Linked DNA regions of Homo sapiens. The protein of the gene in region 2 purifies or fractionates together with the protein of the main gene of each other region. This does not show direct contact. Each region holds a gene or a part of one and is shown on either strand. Other genes may lie near its edges.

The links. Proteins that work in one complex are often made in the same cells at the same time.
Region 1: the proteins of SLC17A9 (region 2) and TKT purify together in Homo sapiens (affinity purification with mass spectrometry; one large-scale study listed by BioGRID and IntAct). This does not show direct contact.
Region 3: the proteins of SLC17A9 (region 2) and NCOA4 purify together in Homo sapiens (affinity purification with mass spectrometry; one large-scale study listed by BioGRID and IntAct). This does not show direct contact.
Region 4: the proteins of SLC17A9 (region 2) and CHST11 purify together in Homo sapiens (affinity purification with mass spectrometry; one large-scale study listed by BioGRID and IntAct). This does not show direct contact.

What each region holds. Positions count from the first base shown.
Region 1 is NC_000003.12:53,239,023-53,242,522, forward strand, and holds part of TKT (transketolase), read right to left. Parts: intron 3,221-3,500; coding exon 3,103-3,220; intron 2,224-3,102; coding exon 2,110-2,223; intron 1,327-2,109; coding exon 1,229-1,326; intron 1-1,228. UniProt on the Homo sapiens protein: Catalyzes the transfer of a two-carbon ketol group from a ketose donor to an aldose acceptor, via a covalent intermediate with the cofactor thiamine pyrophosphate.
Region 2 is NC_000020.11:62,962,709-62,966,208, reverse strand, and holds part of SLC17A9 (voltage-gated purine nucleotide uniporter SLC17A9), read right to left. Parts: coding exon 3,455-3,500; intron 2,937-3,454; coding exon 2,840-2,936; intron 2,626-2,839; coding exon 2,529-2,625; intron 1,982-2,528; coding exon 1,894-1,981; intron 1,078-1,893; coding exon 1,043-1,077; intron 600-1,042; coding exon 484-599; intron 1-483. UniProt on the Homo sapiens protein: Voltage-gated ATP nucleotide uniporter that can also transport the purine nucleotides ADP and GTP. Uses the membrane potential as the driving force to control ATP accumulation in lysosomes and secretory vesicles.
Region 3 is NC_000010.11:46,010,124-46,013,623, forward strand, and holds part of NCOA4 (nuclear receptor coactivator 4), read right to left. Parts: coding exon 3,427-3,500; intron 2,904-3,426; coding exon 2,760-2,903; intron 1,084-2,759; coding exon 100-1,083; intron 1-99. UniProt on the Homo sapiens protein: Cargo receptor for the autophagic turnover of the iron-binding ferritin complex, playing a central role in iron homeostasis. Acts as an adapter for delivery of ferritin to lysosomes and autophagic degradation of ferritin, a process named ferritinophagy.
Region 4 is NC_000012.12:104,455,649-104,459,747, reverse strand, and holds the start of CHST11 (carbohydrate sulfotransferase 11), read right to left. Parts: upstream 2,801-4,099; 5' UTR 2,337-2,800; coding exon 2,219-2,336; intron 1-2,218.

The DNA.
Region 1 (3,500 bases), on a different chromosome or scaffold from region 2:
AATCATGGGGACAGGTCTTCCCCATGCTGTTCTCGTGATGGTGAATAAGTCTCACAAGATCTGATGGTTTTAAAAACGGGAGTTTCCCTGCACAAACTCTCTCTTTGCCTGCGCCTTCCACATAAGATGTGACTTGTTCCTCCTTACCTTCCAGCATGACTGTGAGGCCTCCCTAGCCATGTGGAACTGTAAGTCCATTAGACCTCTTTTTCTTCCCCAGACTTGGGTATGCCTTTATCAGCAGTGTGGAAACAGACTAATACAGTGATTATTCTTTAAAAAAAAGAATAATTTTTTTTTTAAAGAGGCAGAGTCTCGCTCTGTAGCCCAGGCTAGGGTGCAGTGGCTCAATCATGTATAGCTATAATCTTGAAGCCCTAGGCTCAAGTGATCCTCCCACCTCAGCCTCCTATGTAGCTGGGACTACAGGTGTGTACCACCATGCCTGGCTAAGTTTTGTATTTTTTGTAGAGAGAGTCTTGCTCTGTTGCCTAGGCTGGTCTGGAACTCCTGGCCTCAAGCAATCCTTCCCTCAGCCAGCCATTATTCTTAACAGTTTACAACCTCATCCCCCCAGGCCATATCTGACCACCGCAGACAAACTTATGGCTAGAACCTTCCTGGGGGGCCGTTCCTACAAATCACCTGGTGGGCGCTAGAGCAGCACACCTTTCTGGTCAGGCTCATCACCCACCCTCTGAAGGCTCAATCTCTCAAATGTTTGTTTCTTCCCTGCTGATAGGAGGTGGCTTACAGGTATCCCAGAACCCCTCAGAACATACAACCCTCCCCTTTACCAAGATAAAGGCAAGTGGCTCAGGCCTGGGCTCCTGGTGCCTAGTCAGACAGGGGCCTGGGGGTGGGTCTTTCTGAGACTTCTGGGGTCTGGGCACAGGGCTGGGGGCAAAACAGGAAGTCCTCAGCCTAAGCACTCTGGCTGAAGAGCACATGATTGAGAGCACGCACTCTGTGCAAACCTGGCCCTGCCAGTCACTGCTGAGGGACCCAGGGCAGGTCCCTTAACTCCTGAGTGTTTCCTCATTTGTAAAGGGGGCCGGTCATGGCACCAGCCATAGCGGATGTTTAAAGAGCAAAAGAGGCCACGCATATGTATTACTCTGCCCTAGCCAGGAAAGAGGAAGAGTCTGGGGGCGATGGTGAAGGGTGGGTCACCCAAGGACCACTCCCCAAAACTACCCAGGTTGGGGGTGGGGAGTAGGTGTGTTACCTGGCCTTGTCGAAGTATTTGCCGGTGTAGGCCATCCCACAAGCGGCCCCGAGGCCCTGGCCCAGGGAGCCAGTGGCCACGTCGGTGAAAGCTTGTTTCTGTCATAACAGAAGGCCACCGTTAATCTGAGAGGAGAAGGGATCCTGGTCTCACCCGCCTAGGGAGCCACACTCCCACCCAGCCCAGCAAGCCCTTCCTCTGCAGAAGGTCAGGCCCCAGGATGGCCTCTACCTAGCATGTGACTTCTTCTCCTAATGAACTAATTATAATTATAGGTTCAAATCCCAGCCCTGCCCACTAGCCAGCTATGTGGCCTCAGGCCTCAGGCAAGGGACTGAACCTCTGTGAGCCTCAGTTCCCACATCACCCACTTCACAAAGTGCTGGGAGAGAGAATCATGAAAAAATTGACAGAACATTTGCCCCTCGTGGGGACCCAGACCATGTGACAGTTTTTGTGGTAATCCATGAAGTCTTAACGTTTGCAGGGATGCCAGATGGCACCCCAAGGAACAAACTGGGTCCCTTCCCCAGGGTTTCGCCAGCATCCTGCAGCCACTCCCTTATCGAGTCCCCTCTCTTCCCAAGCTGTAGCTACCTAGCCAAGGAGGCCCAGTGCAGAAGGGTAGCTTGGGGAGAGGCCCTCCCTGAAGTCATCCCAGAGCACCCTGGCTGAGGCCTCAGAAGGCCTTCCCCTTTGGCACCAGCTTGGGTTGAATACGTGTCCCCAAAACACCTGCTTCTTTCCTTCCTCAACTCAATGCCCTCCTCCGCCTTTCAACACCTTTGGCTTCTCAGTGGGCACCCCCTACCCCCGTCCCACATGTCTGGGAAATAGGAAGTGGAGGCAGAGGCATGGGAGGCTCTGGCAGGAGCACTTACCGGGACCGGGTGCCCGTCCAAGTCGGAGCTGATCTTCCTCAGGTTCAGCAGCTCCGCCTCGGCCAGGAAACCAGCTTCAGCCCAGACCGCGTAGAGGATGGGAGCTGCATGGCCCTGCCGGGAGATGGATGGTGGGGTGAGGTCAGGTGGGGAGCGGTTCTACTTCGGGCTGTGCCTACTTCACACTGACCCCTGGGGCCCGGCCGAGCCGGCCAACTGCAGCATCCATTTCAGGGGAGGAAGCAAGTGAAGGCCACTTCTCCCCTTTCAGCCCTCTTCAGCCTCTTGGTTTTCAGCCCAAAGTTCCCACTGCCAAGGCCAGGCAGGCACTAAGACAGGTGCAGGGGGCACAGCTGTGAGGCTGGACGAAGCCAAAACCCCAGCAGGCAGCCGGCTGCCCTAATCCCTGGTTTGTGGCATGGGAACAACTTGGACAGACTTCTAAGCTCTAAAGCCTGCCCGAGAGACCAAACGCCACGGAGGCAGGCCTGAGCACAGGTGGATTTCAGGGATCTGTGGCTGTGATTCCACCCAGAAGGGGGGGGTCAGGGGGTCCCCATCCAAAACCCTGCTACAGCACACCACCACCCCGAGGGGGCAAGCCGTGGCCTCGGGAGCGCTGGCACAACACAGATAGAGCAGGTAGGGAGCCACAACCCAGACCGAGATGCCAGTCCTGCCTGTCAACACCCAGACTGGGCAGAACACACAACAGATGTTTCCGTAGTCCCCTACTCCATTTCTTTGAGTTAAAGCGTTGTTTATGTACCTGGGCTCCATGGCAGAGCAACCCATCAATTCAGTCCTGTATTCCTTAGCCAGCTGGGTCAGCACAGAGCAGGACACTGAGGGAGAGGCCAGGACGAGCAGGGAGAAGGCACCTGGGAGAGGTGGGCCCAGCCAGGTCTCCTCAAAGACCACTCACCATTCCAGGGCCCGTGTGACCCTAGTCCCAGGCAAGGTGTGGCTGGCAGTGGGCAGCTGGGCTCTTACCTTGGAGAGCACAAAGCGGTCATTGTGCGGATTCCGGGGGTCCTGGGACTTGTAGCGCATGGTGTGGAAAAAGAGGACAGCCATGATCTCTGCGGCGCTGCAGCATGACGTGGGGTGGCTGTGGCCCAGGAGAGAAGACAGACACAGGCATCATGGCCCTGCACTCCTGAGCTATTGTGCTCAGCTGTACAGGGACCTGGGGGTGCATGTCCTGAGGAGTCACACAGGCCTGGCTTATCAGACAGCCACGAGCTCTTGTTCCCTGGGAGGGTGACACATGGTCTCAAGAAGGCCACTCCTGGCAGTTTGGGGCCTGGGCCAGCTAGTGGGTGCTGGGGACTGTTGTACCTTTCCAGGGGCATCAGATCCTCAGAATCACGGCAACTGAAAATATCTGG
Region 2 (3,500 bases):
GCCCTGCACACCACGCCAACCCGAGCCCCAACCACCCACTGGCCAGAGCACTGCAGCCCTGCACACCATGCCAACCCGAGCCCCAACCACCCACTGGCCAGAGCACTGCAGCCCTGCACACCACGCCAACCCGAGCCCCAACCACCCACTGGCCAGAGCACTGCAGCCCTGCACACCATGCCAACCCGAGCCCCAGCTGCCCGTCTTCATGGAGGACCCAGTGCAGGAAGCGACTCCTTAGAGTAAAGTGCTGTGGGGAAAGCATGTTCGCACAAATCACGCGCACGTGCTGCTCACTGAAGTGAATTGCTGGTTCCTAAAGAACTACTGGGTCTTCAGTGCAGTCACTGCCCAGCAGCTTGGGAAGGGGGTGAAGTGTGAGGAAGAGACTGAGAGAGGCGGACAGAGCTCCCTCTTCACATGTGCGGGCCTCGGCCGTGCGGGCAGCACGGCGCTCTGGTGGATGGAGCAGTCGGCCCTCACCTGTGGTTGAAGGTCTGGAGGCCGATGGAGGCTGATGCAAAGACCACAGACTCACAGAAGCTGGAGGTGTGGCCCAGGCACAGAGCAAAGACGCTGGAGAGGCCAAGGCCCATGCCCTGCAGGAAAGCGCCACCGTGACGGAGAGGCACCCAGCCCGCCTGCAGCAGGGCCCTCTCCTGACTCAGCTGCCCGAAAGCCCCCCTGGGCGCACCGCACAACGGTCAGGTTGGCTGCGACCACAAACTTCTCTCAGACCAGGCCCCCTAGAGGAGGTCTGGGAGGAGTCTCCGCAAGAATCAGCCCCGCTCCAAGGGAGAGGCCCTATTCGACGTGGGCAAGCTCAGGCCTGGGCCCAGAGGGGCACAGGATGCTGACCCCAGCCTTCCCCCCAACAGCTGTCTAAACAGCCCCTTCTGGGCCCCAGTGCTGGACACATGGAGAGGCCTGGCATTTGCCTGGTCCCAGATATCAGGTGACTTGGGGACACAACCCTGAGTTCCTGGGAGACCCTGAACAAAGCAGGGATATCCAGAGAGAACGACCGGAATGATTCTCCTACCTGCATGAGCTTCCGCACCGTGATGGCTCTGTAACCTACAGGGGGAGGCCAAGGAAGGGGCTCCCGTTAGCCCTTTCGTGCTGACACCCCAGAGGGGGTCCCATCCCGAATGGCTGCAGAGGGGCAGCAGGGGAGGAAGAGGCTTGGGGCTCAAGACAGCTATCCCGTGCTGCAGGCAAAAACGTGTGCACACACGCATGTGGGGTGCAGCCGCGAGGCCGCATGTGCGCCTTTGGAAGGTTCCCAAGGCGTGGGTTTGGGCAGAAACACAGAACAGCCACACAGCAGTTACAGAGGCGGAAACAGGCGAGCGGCCCCACTTCCTCTGCTGCTCCAGATTTTCTAGCTTTTCCACAACGAGTGTGTATTCCTTTTGCAATTAGGAAAAACACGAACATTCTAAGAATAGGCACACGTGTGGAGAGAGCATGTGGGCACGCGTGTGCATCCGCCTGTACGTGTCTGTGCAGCGGACACTGCACTAGGGGAAGAAACACGCAGCCCGCTCGGGGCTCATCCCAGCGTGGGTCTGGAGCACATGGAACAAAGACAGAAGCTCTTCCAAAGGTTCAAGGATGCTTGTAACCTCTGACCCCTCCAGGTGCCTTCCTGGAGGGTCAGGGGCTGCATCCAGCCCCCAGGGGTGAGCTCCACAGTCACCGTGAGACCAGACCCTCCACCACAGTCTAACCCCACCCTTTAAGGAGGAGGCCGAGCCTGGAAAGAAGTGCCCCTCTGTCCCAGCTCTCCGTGTGCTGAAGCTGCAGCCCCAGGATGGGAGCATCCTGCCCCTCGAAAGCGAGGTGAACCAGGGTGTGGCTTCCAGCCCCGGTCCCCTCCCTGGGGCTCACCCTGATTGATGAGATGATCAGAGAGAAACCCGCTGAATAGACTGGCCGGAATCGCCACCAACCAAGGAACCACGTTGAAGATCCAGCCCTGCAGGGGGGAGTTTGGCCTTAGAGGGGGCCAGGGCCGGCATCTGGCCATCTGGAAGAGGATACTCAGGCTGGACAGCGCCCCCGTGCCCACCACTGCCCAGGAAAGCTCTCCGGCAGGGCCAGCCCTGCTCCTGGGAATGTGCAGCTCTTGACCACCACCCGGCAGGGCAGCAAGACAGCCTCAGAGAAGGAACCGTGCTGACCGCAGGTGACCCCTCTGTCCACATCCCGGCTTCTGCACCGGCCTCCTCAGGCTCTGAAGTCGGGTTCTGTGGGCCAGCAGGTCACGATGAGGGCTGGGAGGGCTGCAGCCGCAGCAGGAAGGCACCGAGCGCCCGCATCATTTCCAGCCTCAAACACAGAAACCTGCCCCGAGCATGGACGGGGTCCTCTCCAGAGGAAGAGCCTGGCAGTGCCAGGACCCTCAGAGTCCAGGAGGAGCCGAGGGTTCCACCATCTGCAGGCCAAGGACCCACAGTGCCTGGTGCAGCTCAAGCCTCGTGCCTTCTGGGCGCTCCTTCACCCTGCGGGAGCCCCCGACTCACCTTGGCGTCGGGGAAGGTCTCCTCGAAGAAGGTGGGCAGCCAGGAGAGGAGGATGAAGAAGGAGCAGGCTGCAGAGAGCTGGGAGACGACGGCTGCCCTGCGGGGCCCAATGGTGGACCGTGACTCTGGTGCCGCACGAGCTGGCCGGGCCTGTGGGACCCACCCCGAGAGGCGTCCCCTGGGGGCCAGAGTCCCACTTCTCTGAGCCCTAGGCCCTGCTGGCTCAAGGGCTGTCAGGTCCGGCCAGGTTCACACCCCCATGGTCACCGGCCCTGCCGCTGCTCCAAGGGGTGGCACAGGTCCCAGCTCACCAGACAGCAGGCTTCCGGAAGAGCCGTCTCCAGGGGACTCTGTTGTGCCTGGACACCGGCCGGCTTTGGGCCAGGACACCCAAGGCCAGGATGAGATCTGAGGGAGCAACGGTTTCAAACTGATGGCTATCAGGGCGGGAGGCGCCACCCGTTGCCAAAGGATTGGGGATTTGGGGGTGGTTCCAGAGGGGTCAGCAGGCCTCGTCCATGCCTCAGGTTGCACATGGGCGCCAGCCTCCCTTGGCCTCCCCTACCAGACACCTAACAGGCAGCATCACCTTTGAGAACCGCGTTCTGAACGACCCTCCACACGGCCTCCTCCAGAGCCCCCTGGCCACCCAAAGACTCGGCTGCTCCTGCACCCTGCCTTGACCTGTGCCCAGCAGGTCTTCCTGGGTGTCTGCCTTAGCCCTAGATGGAACCTTCCAGATCGAATTGGGTGGCGGAGCCGCTGACAGCTCAGCACCCGAGCGCTTTTCCTCACTGGCGGATTCTTTGGGAGGTCAAAGCCATCGTCTCCGGGCTCCTGCTCCAGGCTGCTCAGCGGCTGCCACCAGGGGAGGAGGCACTGGGCAGCTGTGGGCGCCCGGGACTAGCCCGCCCGGCCTGCGTTACCTTTTTCACTCAGCAGGTACCTGTACACGTACCACACCCAAAGCAA
Region 3 (3,500 bases), on a different chromosome or scaffold from region 2:
CACCACTGCACTCCAGCCTGAGTGACAGAGACCCCATCTCAAAATAAATGAATAAATAAATAAAACTCAAACCAGTGCTATTTTGATGTTTATGCTCACCTGGGCCTTCTTTCGAAGCAGCCACTTGTCTTCTCCAGAAGATAACTGGCTGAGGTTGCCCATCTTCTTTCCTGGCAGGACCCAGTCAGCTGTGTTAAAGGAACACCAGGAAGTATTCATGGGGCTTTTAAACTTCTGTTTGCCAGCTCTGTCTTCAGTACCAGGCACTTCCTTGGGACTTCCTTCTTTGTATGGGGGCCTGATAAGCCACTCCGACAAGGGGCTGTTCTTTATGACTTGGAAGGAATCAGCAATTCTAGAAGGAGTCATTGCCTTTGGTGCTTTAGTTTGTTCTATTACTTCTTTTCTAGGACAGAGCCACATATTCAGGGAATCTTTATGCTTCTCAGGCTCAGGTTTGGGTTCCACAGGCATCCCATTTTTATCCTTTCCTTCTTTCTTCAGAAGCCACTTATACAGAGCCTCCTTCTCACAATTCTCATCACACACACACTCTGCAAAGCTTGTGCAGGGCTCATTGGCTCTGCACACCTCCTCTACCTTACATGGGTCCTGATGGTTCTGGACAAGCCAATCCTCTGTAACCATGCTGGGGGTGGACAATGGTTTCTTGGCCTCCAAGTGGTCATTCAGGCACTTCAGATTGCCCAGGTTTTCAATCTCCACACCTTTGGGCTGGTTTCCCTGACAGTTGGTACAGGAGTCAGTCTTGACAAGCCAATCATTCACATTATAGGACTGGAATAAGAGCTTAAACTTCTCACTGGTTTCACGACTGCCATTCTCAGGCTTCCGCAGCTTATGGGATTCCTGGGGAGTCACTAGCCAATCTGATAGGTCCATCTCATCTTGATCAGGAAGCTCTTGATCTCCAACCTTTTCCATTTCAATGGAGAAAGAACTAGTAGTGGAATGGCTGTTACACTTTTGATAACTTGATTTTTCACTCTTGAGGAGCCAGTTTTCTAAGCCCTTTAGGTTTCCCCCGACATTATTGAAGAAATTGCAGGCTCTGGAAGAAGTCTACACAAAAAGTACACAGTATTAGTTTGCCAGAACAATTATGACTGCTTTGGAGATTCTGTCTGCACTTTTTCTTTTTTTGAGACAGTCTCACTCTGTCGCCCAGGCTGGAGTGCGGTGGCACAATCTCAGCTCACTGCAAGCTCTGCCTCCCAGCTTCACGCCATTCTCCTGCCTCAGCCTTCCGAGTAGCTGGGACTATAGGCGCCCACCACCACGCCCAGCTAATTTTTTTTTTTTTTGTATTTTTAGTAGAGACGGGGTTTCACCGTGTTAGCCAGGATGGTCTCGATCTCCTGACCTCGTGATCCGCCCACCTCAGCCTCCCAAAGTACTGGGATTACAGGCGTGAGCCACCACGCCCGGCCCTGTCTGCATATTTACTGTCTTGCCCAGTGTTTTGAAATTTAAGTACACAAAGCCAAAAGGCAAGGGATTTCTCTATTTAGATACTCTTATCTGATAGAAAAGGGTGTAATATGCCTTTACAAATAAAGCACAAAAAATAAGCAAAGGATATGATCAGGCAAGTCATCAAAGAAGCCTAATAAACATGAAAATACTTGGCCGGGTACGGTGGTTCACGCCTGTAATCCCAGCACTTTGGGAGGCCGAGGCAGGCAGATCACAAGGTCAGATAGAGACCATCCTGGCTAACACGGGTGAAACCCCGTATCTACTAAAAAATAAAAAATATGCAAAAAATTAGCAGGGTGTGGTGGCAAGCGCCTGTAATCCCAGCTACTCAGGAGGCTGAGGCAGGAGAATGGCATGAACCCGCAGGACGGAGCTTGCAGTGAGCCGAGATCCCACTACTACACTCCAGCCTGGGAGACAGAGCAAGACTCGGTCTCAAAAAGAAAGAAAAAAAAAAAAAAAAAAAAAAAAAAAAAAAAACGAAAAAAGAAAATACTCAACCTCCTTACTAATGGAAGAAAAAACAAAAGCAAAATTGCTATTTTGTGTCAAATTCAGAGCAAAAAACCTAAATGACTATTACTCTTAGGTTTCAGGGAAGCAGGTACCCTGAATATTCTGCTGGTGAGACTATAAACTGTTGGCAACTTCCTGGGAAGCCAAATTGGCAATATGTATCCAAAGTCTTAAAGCGTAAGCAGAATTATAATCTAGGAATGCAATTTCTATAAATGTACTCCTAAGGAACTAATCAAGAATGCACACAAATAATTGGCTCCTGGATGTTTAGGGAATCCTTTTTTATATCCAGAAAAACTTGAATTTAAATTACAGCCAATCAATTATATACTACTAAATACTTTACAGAAGAAATTAAATGACAGAGAAATATGTTAATGTTATCCTGGTGAAAAAAAAAATCTACCTACCGAAACAGGACTTACAGAATGGTTCTTTTAAAATATGTATGTATAGAAAACTGAAGTATATAAATACTTCACTTTTATTGTTACAGTGTTTTTCTCTTTGTGTTGAGATTATGGGTTTGTGGGCTTTTTTAATATAAAATTCTTTATTTTTAAAATTTTCTATGATAAAGAGTTCCTTATTTTCTAAACTTTCTATGATGAAGAGACTATTAATAAATATGTTTCCAGACTGCAACCAAAAAGTTAACAATGACACATAGTACTACTGATTAGTAACTAACTCCACCTACTGCTGTGTCTACTGTAGAAACAATAAAAGCAGCAACAGACCTGACTGTTCTCCAAGGTCTGCTTTTGGGTAAGCCAGTCCTGGGGGTCGGTGCTGGGTATGTAAGGAGCTTGATAACCACTGGCAGGTTTGCTTCCAAGGAGCCATTCGCTGAAAGGGACAGCTACAATACCGGATGCTGACTTCTGTTAATCACAAAACAAGGAATGTCAAATGCAGTAGAAAGTTCACCAGAAAAAGAGAAGAGCCACTCTCTAATCTTGGCTTGCCACTGACCCTGGGCAAATCATGTGCCTTCCAAGAGCCTCAATTTTCACAATTATAAAACAAGAGACACACAGCTGATCTCTAGGGCTCTTCTCAACTAAAACATATAGAAACCTTTATTCACATTGCCATTCCTTTAGAAATAAATCATCTCTACAAATTATAAAGAGGATCGCTCACAGAGAACCAGTATCAGTAAGACAGCTAATGATAATTTCCTGTGAACTGATTGATAATTACTTTTTCTGTTAATCAGCCCCGACAAGACATCTAAATTTCTATTTGGCATTAGGTCTCAAGGGAAGCATTCAATTTCATAAACTAACTCATTGCCACTGGTGCCTTTTTACAAATAGTAGCATTTTTTTAATGCTATATAAAACCCAAAGGAAGTATAAGCCAAGTAATGACTCAATTACCAAAAACAAAATGATATTTTACCTGCTCTGGCATGGAGATACAGCCTCTCTTCTCCAGGAAGGGCCCAATATTTGCTGAACTAGCATGAGCCATCA
Region 4 (4,099 bases), on a different chromosome or scaffold from region 2:
AGAGGATCTTTTTCAGCACAAGCTTAGAAAAGGTTCTCTGCCTCTTCCAAAAGGCTAGGCTGAAAAGATATGATGTCACTTTCAAGTCAACTTAAGACTAACAAGGGCTGGAAATTTTCACAAAGTGACAATTACAAGTTGGAAGTTTCTTTCTAGTATCTTTGGCTAGAAAGTTATTTCCCAATTCTCACAAAGAATTCCATGACAATTGTATTTCCCTGGGCAATTAACAGGTACACAGAAGCTCAAGCGCATTCCTGCTGAAGGCTGACACTCATCCGTGTTCTGGGCATTCGTACAGAGCATTACTGGCATTCACGGTCCCAGCGAAACCTGAACACAGCTCTAGAGTCTAGACCAAATCACCGGCCCCTTGTTTAAACTGTTTGAACCCGAGTGTATCTGTACACCACCAGTCCCCTGGCGCTCTGGGGTGAGTCTGGCCCGGTCTCCGGTGGGCCCTGGAGCTTGGCACTCTGAGATACCCCTGGCTGTCTGGCCCTGCCCACTGCAACCAAGGCCTGCCTGCCGGAATGCAAGCCAGGTCCATTTTTAAATTCCTTTATAAGTTTCACAACCGCAGGTTTGGGTGAGGAGACAAACACCGCTGTAGTTTGCTGACATTAAACTAAAAATACCCAGCTGCAAACAAAAGCCATCTTTAACAGGGCTGGCTCGGACGTCCTGAGGTTACATGTGGTAGAGTCGGACCATATCCTTGGCAGTGTGGCTGCCTTAACAACTGCTCCAGACCGAGTGGGGCAAAGGGGCCGTCTGTCCCTGCGCTGTCAAGGAATCTGCAGCCTGCAGCCCTGCCTGTTTGATGGAAAGAACAGCTTTATTCCTCTGCCATCGACCCAAACGCAGGCTTGATGAATTCGGGACTGCGTCTGTTTAAAGTGTTAGATACACAGTGAAAGGAGAAGGCGGGAGGCAAAAATGAAAAACACCAACCCCACTTCCCTGGAAGGAAATGCGTTTCCACCTCCCTCCTCCTTGCAATTAGAAAAGCAAATTATTGCTGTGACTACGCTGAGAAAGGCAACTCGGAGGCGTAGAAAATGGATTTCTGAGCCAACGTGGCCCGGCAGGGGGCTGCTAAGGGAGGGTAAAAGGGAGCAGGGGAGCCACGGCTTGGCGGGGAGACCCGCGTTACCCGGAAGGCTTCTCGGAACGTTCTACCTGTTGGGCTTCGCAGCCGAGCTGCTCACCCCCGGCCGCCGCGCTCGAGGGCGCCCCTCCCTCTCCAGAACCCAAACTTTCCCTCGCACCCCTAGGAAGCGACGAGCCTCGTCCCTCCCCCAGTCCAGATTTCGGACGTGGAACTTTGCCTGAGCCACAAGGGACCGGAGGAATGGGGTTCATTCCCACGCCGCCCGGGGGATTCCCGTTGCTCGGATCCCAGAAGTGGGGGATGCAAACGGACGGTCAGCCCAGGACCTGGCCAAAGTTTCCTCCAAAACTGCAGTGGTCAAGGCGTGACCCAGGAGCTCGGAGTTTCCAGCTCAGGGCTGGGGGCTGGAGCAGGCCCCGGGGCACCAGCCGCAAGGTCACTGCGGAGCCGGACCCCGGGGGCAAACGGCCGGCGCGTGGTGGAGGGGCAACGCTGGGCACCCGACCACTCTCCACACCTGCTCAGCTCTGCGCGGAGCCCGGGACACGTGGGAGCCCAGTCCCGGGCTCCCAGCCTGCTGCAGGGACTCGCAACCTCGCCGGGGCGTACACCCTTCGCCCCCGGCCCGGCAACCAGGAAGAGGCGGCTCGCCCGGGCGCAGAGCAGCCGGCTCCGGGTAACTCTTTCATCCTCCGACCTCGGCAGCAGCAGGGAGGGAGTTTCGTTCTCCTCAAACCAGCCCCTCACCCCCGGTTGCTTCCCACACCTCTCCGTTTCCCTGCTACCTCGCAGACAGACAGACAAGGGACACAAAGAAAAAAAGAAGAAGAAAAAAAAAAAAAAAAAAACTACCGCCCCTCCTGGTCCCATCCTCCAGCCCGGAGCCGGTAGGAAGAAGAGGGCGAAGCACACCTTCCCTTCTCCTCCCCATCCCGACGCGGTGACCCGGGTAGATCTGGGCAGCCAGGAGCTCTGGGCAGCCAGGAGCCCCGAAGAGGCCGAAGGCGGAGAGGTAGGGTTGGAAGAGGCAGAAATCAGGCGGAGCGAGCTAGAGCGCGAGAGAGAAGAAAATATCCAACAAAACCACGCTAACGCGCCCCCTACCTGGGTGCAACATACTTTGGAAATAGAAGATGACCAGGATAAAGGATCCCAAGCAAGTGGCCAGCACCATCCGGCAGATTCTGTTCATCCTCATCACTTCCAGCAGCGCTGGCTTCATGGCTTTGTCCTGGCTGCGGGGACCGGGGTGTCCGGGAAGCGCGCCCGGGGCGCAGGAGCAGGGACCCCGCCGCGCGGACCGGAGCCCGGGAGGCGCGGGGCAGAGCTGAGCAAGGCTCAGAGGGAGGATCGGAGTCGCTTCGCGGCCGCTCTCGGAGCCCCCAGCCCGGGCAGGGGTGTGGAAGGTGCCGGAGTTGGTCTGGAAGTGCTGAGATGCGTGGACCCGCTGGCTGCGCGCTCCTGCTCCTCCTCCTCGCCGCTCCGCCGCCTCCTCCGATCCCGCCGGCGGCCGCCGCTGCCTGGTCGCGGGCCGGGCGGCTGGGGTGCGAGCGGTGATGGTGGTGCCGCCGCCGCTGCCGCTGCGCTGGCCGCTGTGGCTGTCCGACGGGCCCTCTCCCTTCTCTCCAAAGGCTACTTCATTGCGCTCCAACGATCTATATATTCCGGGGCTGGGTTTTACCAAATGCAACTCGCGGCCCCCGGCGAGGGGAGGGCGCCTGCGGAGAGCCGGGAGGAGGGAGGGACCCTAGCGCCGGGGCGGAGCGTCGCGCTCCCCCCGCCCCTACCCGGGATATGGTCGCGTCCAGCTGTTGCCCGGGGAGTGCGGTGTGCGCGCCGCGCTCCCGCAGGGTCCCAAAAGCCCTCAGTCCCCGGCCGGGCTCGGCCGCCGTCTGGAGGTTGTGTCAGCGTTTCCATGACAAAACCCGGAGGAAAAAAAGACGAAGAAAATCGCCTCGGTGCTGCCACCCACCCCCGCCAGCGTTTGGAGAGGGAAGTGGCAAGCAGCGGGCTGGGTCTCGGAGGGAAGAATTAAGGGTTAGGGGGTTTCTGGTGGCTGGCAATTATTTAAAATCCCTGGGCGACGTAGCGGGGAAGTTGCCCCAAACCCCCAGGGAGCGAGTGCCCATTTTCCGACGCTCAGAACTGGGCGGTTTCGTTTTTCTTTCAAAGGACAGCCCAGCTTGGGAGTCGGGGTTAAAGAGGGCTGACTTAAAGTCAGGGTTAAGGAAACTGCACGACCCTCGGGTCAGGCGACAGCTGAGCTTTCCCGGGGACTTATACAGACAGAATCTCTGACACCCACCATCACCACCATTCCTCAAGGCAAAAGGGATCTGTGGGTTGCAAAACTCTGCTACCCCAAAGGGTAGAGCATCCTCCAAATTATTCAAAATTAACAGCAGTCTTAGCTGGGAGGGGGTGAGAAAATGCCCCTAGGAAGCCACCTCAACCAAGTCCAGAAAACTGCTGGAAAAGCCAAGCCAGCCATAGCACTGGCAGGTACATGGAAAGATGGTGCTGCTTTCTTGTATTGTGTAGAATGACTTCCAGTTTCCAATTCCATGCATTTAGGCTGTTTCACAATCAATAAAGTGGACACAGCCAATAGTGTAGGGATCACTCGTATGTCAGGGAAAAAAAAAATGTTAGTTAGACTAACCTTTGTGCCTTATCAAGTCATTACTAATTCAATTAAAAATGAAATAAGATACTGTGTCTTTCAATGCCTCTCACAAAATAGGCATTTGATAAATTCTTATTGAATCTGAATGTAATGGGCCTTATCCTCCCCTCGATAGACAGAGACACAACTTGCAGTTAGACACATGCAACAAAAACCACCTGGGCAACCTCAGTTCCCTTCCCCCAGAGTTCTCCTCCAGCAGTTGCATGGTGGGGAAAGTAACAAACTCAGCAGCCTTGCCTTTGATTACAGAAGACAATCAAAGCACAATATTTATGTAGCCGGTGTGCGCTGTATTA